3 separate regions of the Homo sapiens genome follow, and all the other regions are linked to region 2. The links come from fine-mapping of genetic effects on gene expression. A gene starts in region 2. Each other region holds a variant in brackets. All regions are shown on one strand. Distances are from middle to middle.

What was found. PIP is the estimated chance that this variant, and not a neighbour inherited with it, causes the effect.
Region 1: its variant is the best candidate, but not a certain one, in a credible set for the expression of TNFRSF1B in whole blood (TOPMed, PIP 0.84).
Region 3: its variant is the best candidate, but not a certain one, in a credible set for the expression of TNFRSF1B in cerebellum (GTEx, PIP 0.72).

The regions. Positions count from the first base shown.
Region 1 is chr1:12,195,437-12,197,936 of GRCh38, reverse strand. The region is part of intron 8 of TNFRSF1B (TNF receptor superfamily member 1B); the gene reads right to left. Among named protein-coding and RNA genes, the nearest start is that of MIR4632, 5.0 kb to the right of the region's middle. The variant G/C (reference allele first, on the strand shown) is at 1,053.
Region 2 is chr1:12,165,472-12,168,252 of GRCh38, reverse strand. TNFRSF1B (TNF receptor superfamily member 1B) reads right to left here and starts at 1,262. Exons shown (of 10, transcript NM_001066.3): 1 at 1,084-1,262. The coding sequence starts at 1,161. It overlaps MIR7846 (microRNA 7846), which reads right to left and starts at 1,310; the gene lies at 1,215-1,310. RefSeq lists an enhancer at 195-836 and silencers at 877-1,106, 1,117-1,426.
Region 3 is chr1:12,131,817-12,134,657 of GRCh38, reverse strand. All of the region lies in intron 12 of TNFRSF8 (TNF receptor superfamily member 8), which reads right to left. Among named protein-coding and RNA genes, the nearest start is that of MIR7846, 34 kb to the left of the region's middle. The variant G/C (reference allele first, on the strand shown) is at 1,188.

The DNA of each region.
Region 1 (2,500 bases), 30 kb before region 2:
AGCCAGGATGGTCTCGATCTCCTGACCTCGTGATCCGCCCCCCTCGGCCTCCCAAAGTGCTGGGATTACAGGCGTGAGCCATGGCGCCCGGCCACATGTTGGTGTTTTCTAAACAAAGGAACGCCACTGTCTCCCATGCCCTGGACGTTCTTTCTGTGGCAGGAGGAGCAGGTGGGTGCTGAGTCCACACTCTAAGCCCAGCAGCCCAGCTCAAGAGGACTCTCCACTGGCCTCTTATCAGGAGTAGCTGCTGGTTGAGGAGTAGCGTGGGACACAGGCATAAACCTGATTCAAACCTGGGCTATGCCACTCACCTAATGATCTAATCCTACAGGAAAAATGGAACCTCCCAGAGTCTCAGTTTCCTCCTCTGTAAAATGGGGGTGATGATGCTCCCTGCCCCACAGGGATGCGTGGGGACTCAGTCACAAAGAGCCTGGCAGGGCTCAGCCAGGGCTGTGCTGGGATAAGCTCAGGCCTGTGCAGATTTCCTCCCAACTCCATATTCAGGAAGGTCTTGGGAGTTGGAAACTGGCTACAGTGTGAGTGTTTATACCACAGAAATTAGCAAACACCACAAATCAGGGTTTGGGGGTTTTTTTCTGCACTAGACACACCACTGGGGCACTCAACAGATACTTGAGTCACTCACATTCAGTGAACACTGAGAGCAACAGTGAAAGGAAAGGGGCCAGGCGTGGTGGCTTATGCCTCTCATCCCAGTACTTTGGGAGACCGAGGTGGGCAGATCACTTGAGGTCAGGGGTTTGAGACCAGCCTGGCCAACATGGCAAAACCCCGTCTCTACTAAAAATATAAAAATTAGCCAGGCATGGTGGCGCATGCCCATAGTCCCATCTACTTGGGAGGCTGAGGTGGGATGACCACTCGAACCCGGGAGGCGGAGGCTGCAGTGAGCCAAGAGGGCGCCACTGCACTGCAGCCTGGGCGACATAGCTGTCTCAAAAAAAAAAAAAGAAAGAAAGAAAAAAAAAATGGAAAAGGGAAGCAGAGGCTGCTAGGCCACACCCAGGACATCTTCAGTGCACAGA[G/C]GATTGGGAAACGCTTGGTGGGGAAAGGGAAGGTGACAGCTGGGCTGCTGCGGAAGAGCTTGGGGGAGACACCTGCTCTACGCACGCCACCAGGCGGCAACCGTCAGTGTCACTGAATTGAAGCTGGAGAAAGGGAGCAGTGAAACTCGCTCGCCGGGGAATGAGAAAATTTCCTCCCCACTGAAATACTGTAGGGCAGGGCAAAGAGCACTGAGATGGGAGTCCAGAGACACACTGCGGTGCGACCTTGAGCAACTCAGTTTTCCTCCCTGCATCTCTTTTCTTGTCACCAAAATCAGGGGATGAAATCAATCTATCTGATTCCAAACACCTGGTGTAAGCTTCGGGTATTGGGCTGCCCAGGGCTGAGCTGTTCCCTCGAGCAGTGGTTCTCCACTAGGGGTGATTTTGCCCTCCAGGGGACACTTGGTGATGTCTGGAGAATTTTTGATTGTCACCACTGGAGTGGGAATGAGGCTGGCATGTAAGTAAATAAAGACCAAAGATGCTGCTGAATAGCACGGGACAGCCCCCACAACTAAGTAAGATATTTTATTTATTTATTTTATTTTATTTTTTCTTTTGAGATGGAGTCTTGCTCTATTGCCCAGGCTGGAGAGCAGTGGTGTGATCTCAGCTCATTGCAACCTCCACTGCCCGGGTTCAAGCGACTCTCCTGCCTCAGCCTCCCGAGTAGCTGAGACTACAGGCACGTGCCACCACGCCTGGCTAATTTTTCTGTTTTTAGTAGAGATGGGGTTTTACCATGATGGCCAGACTAGTCTTGAACTCCTGACCTCAAGTGATCCATCTACCTCGGCCTTCCAAAGTGCTGGGATTACAGGAGTGAGCCACCGTGCCCAGCCAAGATCCTTTTTAAAAATATTTATTTTATTTAATTTTGTTTAGGGATAGGGTCTCACTGTGTTTCCCAGGCTGGTCTTGAACTCCTAGACTCAAGCAATCCTCCCACCTTGGCCTCCCTTAAGTAAGATGTTGTCTCAAATATCCATGAGGTTGAGAAGTTCTTTCTCTACCTGCCCCTGAGGTCGAGAAAACTCATCAGACTCTGTTTTCTCATCTGTCAAATTGGGTAAAAAACCTGCCCTGCCTACCAGGTGCAAGGCTGTGACAGACGTATGTTCTGGCTCACCCCATACCCACTTCCAACCCCCCTCCCTTGTCCTCCTCCTCCATAGAGGCTGGAAAAGCAAAACACCCTCTTTCCCAGCTTCCCTCGCAGCTAGGGGTGGTCATGTGACACTGTCTGGTCAGTGAGATGAAAGAAGTCTACCCAGGGCTTCTGGGAAGGCATCCGATTTACTGATAAGGGCACCATGGCTGACCTGGCCACCTGCCCCTTCTTCCCACCTCAAACTTAGAGGTGACATATGAAGTGATGATTACCATCTTATGACATGAGGCCACAAACAAGAGAACAAAAGTCA
Region 2 (2,781 bases):
AAGATGTCAGATGGGGGCAGATGGGCCATGTGTCCATCAGGGGCGGCTCTGAGGAAGGATGAACGCCCACCTTCCCCGCAGCCTCAGGGCACAGGGGCCGAAGGCAGGAGAGGCCCCCTTTGGAGGAAGAGTTCCCCCCAGACCCTTCCATGAAATACAAGTTCTCTGAGCCTCAGTTTTCCTTCTCTAAAAAATGGTTTATCTTATCTTACCAAACCATGGAGACAGTAAAACAAAAATGGGGTTATCCTATGTTACCAGACCAGGAGACAGTCAAAAACAGGCAAAGGGTGCACAGTCCCTTGTACGCCCGTTGCTACTGTGGGAGTGACGTTCATATTGAATAGGAGCCCTAGGGTTTCTGCTGTCTCCATTTTCCTGCGGCCCCCGGAGACTTCATTTGCCTTGCTCGATTACCAGCCCAGACCTCCCTCGCTTGCCCTGTCCCCAGAGGCCGCAGAAAACAGACTCTGCAGTAGCCCCCGGACGCATCGGAGGAAGCAGACAGGCAGCTCGCCCTCCAGCTGTGCCCTCAGTGGACCTGACACACACCTGGTCCTGCTCTTCAGACACAGGACCCTGGTATTTCTAAGAAATCGGAAAACCGTCGCCCAGAGGAAAAGGAAGTCTTTTGAAGAGGGTGCCCGGCGTGGGCAGTGGGGCAGCGCCCCGGCACAGCCCCTTCTCCACCGCGTGGGAGGGAAGGGCTGTCGCGGCAGTCGCCGGGGTGAGGGAAGAGGGGTCCCGGGTCTAGCGGGGGTCTGCCCAGGACCCGCTGCTCAGCCCCAAATGCCCCGGCCTGCGCTCGCGGAGGAACCAGGGTGCGCCCCTGTCACGACGCGGGTAAGAGGGGCTTCGGGGGCCAGAGTTGTGCCCCGAGCGCACGTGTGCCGGGCCCGGAGTCCCCAGCGGGTCCCCAGAGGCGCGCGTGTCTGATGCGGATGGGGGGCGGCGACTGGGACTCCCAGCCTCCCAGCCCGTGACAGCGCCCCGGGAGAGCGCGGCCCGGGCACCCGAAGGCTGCGCACCAGCCGGGTGGACATGCGGGGCGGCTGTCCCCCGTGGGCCGCGCGAGTCACCCACCTGGGCGGGCAAGGCGTGCGCCGCAGCCCAGAGCTCCAGTCCGACGGCCAGCGCGGCCCAGACGGCGACGGGCGCCATGGGTGCGGGCGGGGTCCGGTTGCCCCCTGCCCTCGCGCCCTCGCGCCCTCGCAGCCCAGCGCCTTCTCTCCAGGCTCCGCTGCGCTCGCTAGCCCTCGACTGAAAGCGAAAGCCCGCGCCCCAGCGGGCCAGAGGCCAGGCGGCGGGGCGGGGCGGGGCCAGCCGGCCTTGGACACGCCTCCCCCACGCCCCTCCCCAGACGCTGCTGGGCCTCCGACCCGACCACTCCAGCATCGCTGGGCCGATACCTCCAGCGTCACTCCCAGCACTCGGGTGACCCCTCAACCTCCTCCTATCGTCCCCTCCTCTTCGAATCACCATCTCCACCTGCCCGGCCTCCACCTGCCCGGCCTCCACCTGCCCTCCCAGCTCCCACAGGCTTCCCTGTCCCGTGAGGGTGAGGCACTAATTTGGAAAAACATCCCCCAAAGCTGACAGCTGCTTTAGGGGAACCAAGAGAATTCTAGATCATTCACTTATTTAGACTCTATTTTAAATATATTTAATTCTTATTTTTTAATTTTTTTTGAGACAAGGTCTCACTCTTTCACCCATAGCTCACTGCAGCCTCCAACTCCTGCGCTCAAGCGATCCTCCCACCTCAGCCTCCCGAGTAGCTGGGACTACAGGCTCGGGCCACCATGCTAGGCTGATTTCTTTATAGAGATGGGGTTTCGCCATGTTGTCCAGGCTGGTCTCGAACTCCTGAGCTCACGTGTTCTTCCCACCCTCAAGTGATCTTCCCGCCTCTGGCCTCCCAAGGTGCTGGGATTATAGGTGTGAGCCACTGCACTCGGCCTGTTTAGACTCTAGAGCCAGACCACCTGGGTCTGGATCTCTGAACTGACCTCATAGGACTATTCTAAAAATTTAAAGATATGTAATATACATAATGCAGTCTGTACTTTATATATACTTAAGTAAGTATCTACATATATAACAATAGGCATTTATAAATCTTGGCTGTTGTTACTACTCTTCGCGTGTTCATTTATCCTTAAACACGCATCCAGCCTTCTCACAGGGAGAAGACTCTGCACTTCCCTGCTCAAGTCTCCTGCCCAGGCAGGGGGCAGATGAACAGAGGCTGGGAGAGAATGTCACCAGGGAAGCTGCAGGGCCCTGAGGGGCTGCTGAGACCAGGCCCAGGAGAGCTGGCTTCCCCAGGATTTACATCATGACCGAGCACCCATTCCAGCTGCAATCTGTCCCCCCATCCCCACTTTGAGTGCCAGCCCTAATACAGGGCCAGCCCTGCGGGGCCAGAGCACATTCCTCCAGCCCTGGATTACGGGGGTCCTAGCCCCCAGCACATAGGGCATTTCTAAGGGTTGGGGTGGGCTGGGTGGCAGGAGGCTATTCTGTTCCCTGTTTCCTCACTGCAGGCTGCCTGAAGAGGTACAGAGACCCTTGCTCCCGGCCACCAGCCCCACAGTGGAGCCTGCAAGGATGGTGCTTCTAGGTGCTGAGTGCTGAGTGAGAAACTGGGAAGTGACTCCCTGGGGATGGAAAACCCCACCTCCTGACCAGGAGGCTGGGAAATCACCTGGTTTCCACATGTTTCTGTGACATGGACCACGCTGAGGGTGTGGCTGGTATGACCCACAGCCTTAACTCTGC
Region 3 (2,841 bases), 34 kb after region 2:
CAGGTGGCAGCCTTCGAGGAGGACAACTGCTCTCGGGCCATCTCATTTCCTTCAATCCCATCCTTTTGTAGGCTCAGGAGGTGCTGATACAATGATTCTCAACGCACAACCTCTATCTTCTCATCTCAAACCTCTACCCTCCACTCCCATTGTTCTCCCATATTAAACAGGGGCCAGGTCACGCCCAAGCACATATTGACATTTAACATTTAACCTTGGCTCACTGGCCATCTGAGAAAGGTGAGAGGGCATCCGGGCATCTAACTCATCCTGGAGCAAGTCAGTTCCCAGAGCAGACCATCCTCCAGGGATGCCCAGCTTTTAACCACTCCTGAGAACGCTACCTACGGAGATCTGGAATATGCTGTTGTCAGGCACACATCCCTGGCTAGACAAATCTGCCACCAAGATGCCCGTATGTCAGCCACGCCGCCTCCTGCACACATCTCTGACTTCAGCAGCTCTGGAGAGCCACCAGCCCTGAGTCCTCACAGATATGCTCACCAGTGCTCAGTCAACAAGTAGGATAAAGTATACGCAAGACTGACCATTTGAACACGCTGTGTGGACACTAGGTGAGTTTGGGAAACACTCTTAGGGGTAATTTTTTCTTTTTTTGAGACAGAGTCTCACTCTGTCACCCAGGCTGGAGTGCAGTGGCACGATCTTGGCTCACTGCAACCTCTGCCTCACAGGTTTAAGCAATTCTCACAAGTAGCTGGGATTACCGACATGTGCCACCACGCCCGGCTAATTTTTGTATTTTTAGTAGAAACAAGGTTTCACCATGTTGGCCAGGTTGGTCTCCAACTCCTGACCTCAGGTGATCTGCCCGCCTCGGCCTCTCGAAGTGCTGGGATTACAGGCATGAGCCACCTTGCCCGGCCAGGGGTAATTTTTTTTTTTTTTTTTTTTTTTTGAGATGGAGTCTAACTCTGTCGCCAGGGTGAAGTGCAGCAGCGCGATCTCGGCTCACTGCAACCTCCGCCTCCTGGGTTCAAGCGATTCTCCTGCCTCAGCCTCCCGAGTAGCTGGGATTACAGGCACGCACCACCATGCTCAGCTAATTTTTGTATTTTTAGTAGAGACGGGGTTTCACCATGTTGGCCAGGCTGGTCTCGATCTCTTGACCTCGTGATCCACCCGCCTCGGCCTCCCAAAGTGCTGGGATTACAGGCGTGAGCCAC[G/C]GCACCCGGCCGAGGCACATTCTTTTCAATGACGTCAGTGAAACTAAATCATGGTCCCTCCAGAGTGATTTTGAGTTTTACAAGCAGCCAACTGTTCTTTGGTACCAAGTCACTGGGGGTGGCCAACAGAATAAAAAAAAAAAAGTGTGACAAAGTAACAAAACAAAATAAATAAAAATGACACAACTCGGCCTTGAAGGGGAAGTGGGTGAACGGGATCGCAGAGCTGCCCATACCCTGCAGGCTGGTTCCATTTTTCTAAAGAGCCATCTGGCAACAAAAACCTCACACTCTTTACCCAGTCATCCCTCTTGAGGGAACACACCCTCAGGAAATAACCCGAAAGAAAACAAAAAGGCCGAGCACAGCAGCGGGTTTATAATAACCCTCAAATTGAAAACCAGCCAAATGTCAAAAACAATGAGGCCGCTTAGCCACCCTGGAGCAGGGGCCTCCTTGGCGGTGAAACTCAGCACAATATTACTTCCCTTCTCCGAGCCTCTGTCCTCCCAGCTGGAAAATGGGATGAATCACATCAACTTTGGGGCTTGTTGAGAAGATTAAAAGAGATATCAAAAGTGAAGGTGCCCAGTGGTAAATCAGGTTGATTTTTTTTTTTTTTTTTTTTTTTTTGAGATGGAGTCTCGCTCTGTCACCGAGGCTGGAGTGTAGTGGCACGTTCTCAGCTCAATGCAACCTCTGCCTCTGGGGTTTAAGCGATCCTCCTGCCTCAGCCTCCCAAGTAGCTGGGACTACAGGTGCGTGTCATGACACCCGGCTAATTTTTGTATTTTCGGTAGAGACAGGGTTTCACCATGTTGGCCAGGCTGGTCTCAAACTCCTGACCTCAGGTGATCTGCCAGGCTTGGCCTCCCAAAGTGCTGGGATTACAGGCATGAGCTACTGCGCCCAGCCAAGATTTGATGTGATGAGCATGACGTTTCACCTCTGTGGTCTTCTTCCCCCAATGCATAACTCCAGTCTAATCATGGGGAAGACATCAGACAGATCCCAGGAGACAGGCGTCCCGCAAAACACCTGATCAATACTCAAAAACTGCCAAGGCCATCAGGGAAACTGGTCTTGAGAAACAAGATCTGAGAAACGGCCACAGGCCAGAGTAGCCTAAGGCGACATGATGACTGAATGTGACGTGGCTCCTGGATGGGATCCTGGAACCTTAGGCAATGCAAGGGAACCCTGAACACAGTGTGGGCTTTCGTTTGTAATCCTGTGTCAATAATGGTTCACATATTTTGACAAATGAACGATGCTGGCTTAAGATGCTAATCACAGAGGAAACTGGGTGTGGGGCATGTGGGAACTCCTGTGCTGTCTTCTCCAATTTTCTGTACATCTAAAACTATTTTTAAAAATGAGACTGGGCGTGGTGGCTCATGCCTGTAATCCCAGTATTTTGGGAGGCTGAGGTGGGCAAATCACGATGCCAGGAGTTCCAGACCAGCCTGGCCAACCTGGTGAAACCCCATCTCTACTAAAAATACAAAAATTAGCTGGGCATGGTGGCGCGCGCCTATAATCCCAGCTACTCGGGAGGCTGAGGCAGGAGAATTGCTGGAACCCGGGAAGCAGAGGTTGCAGTGAGCTGAGATTGCGCCATTGCACTCCAACCTGGGCAACAGAGCGAGACTCT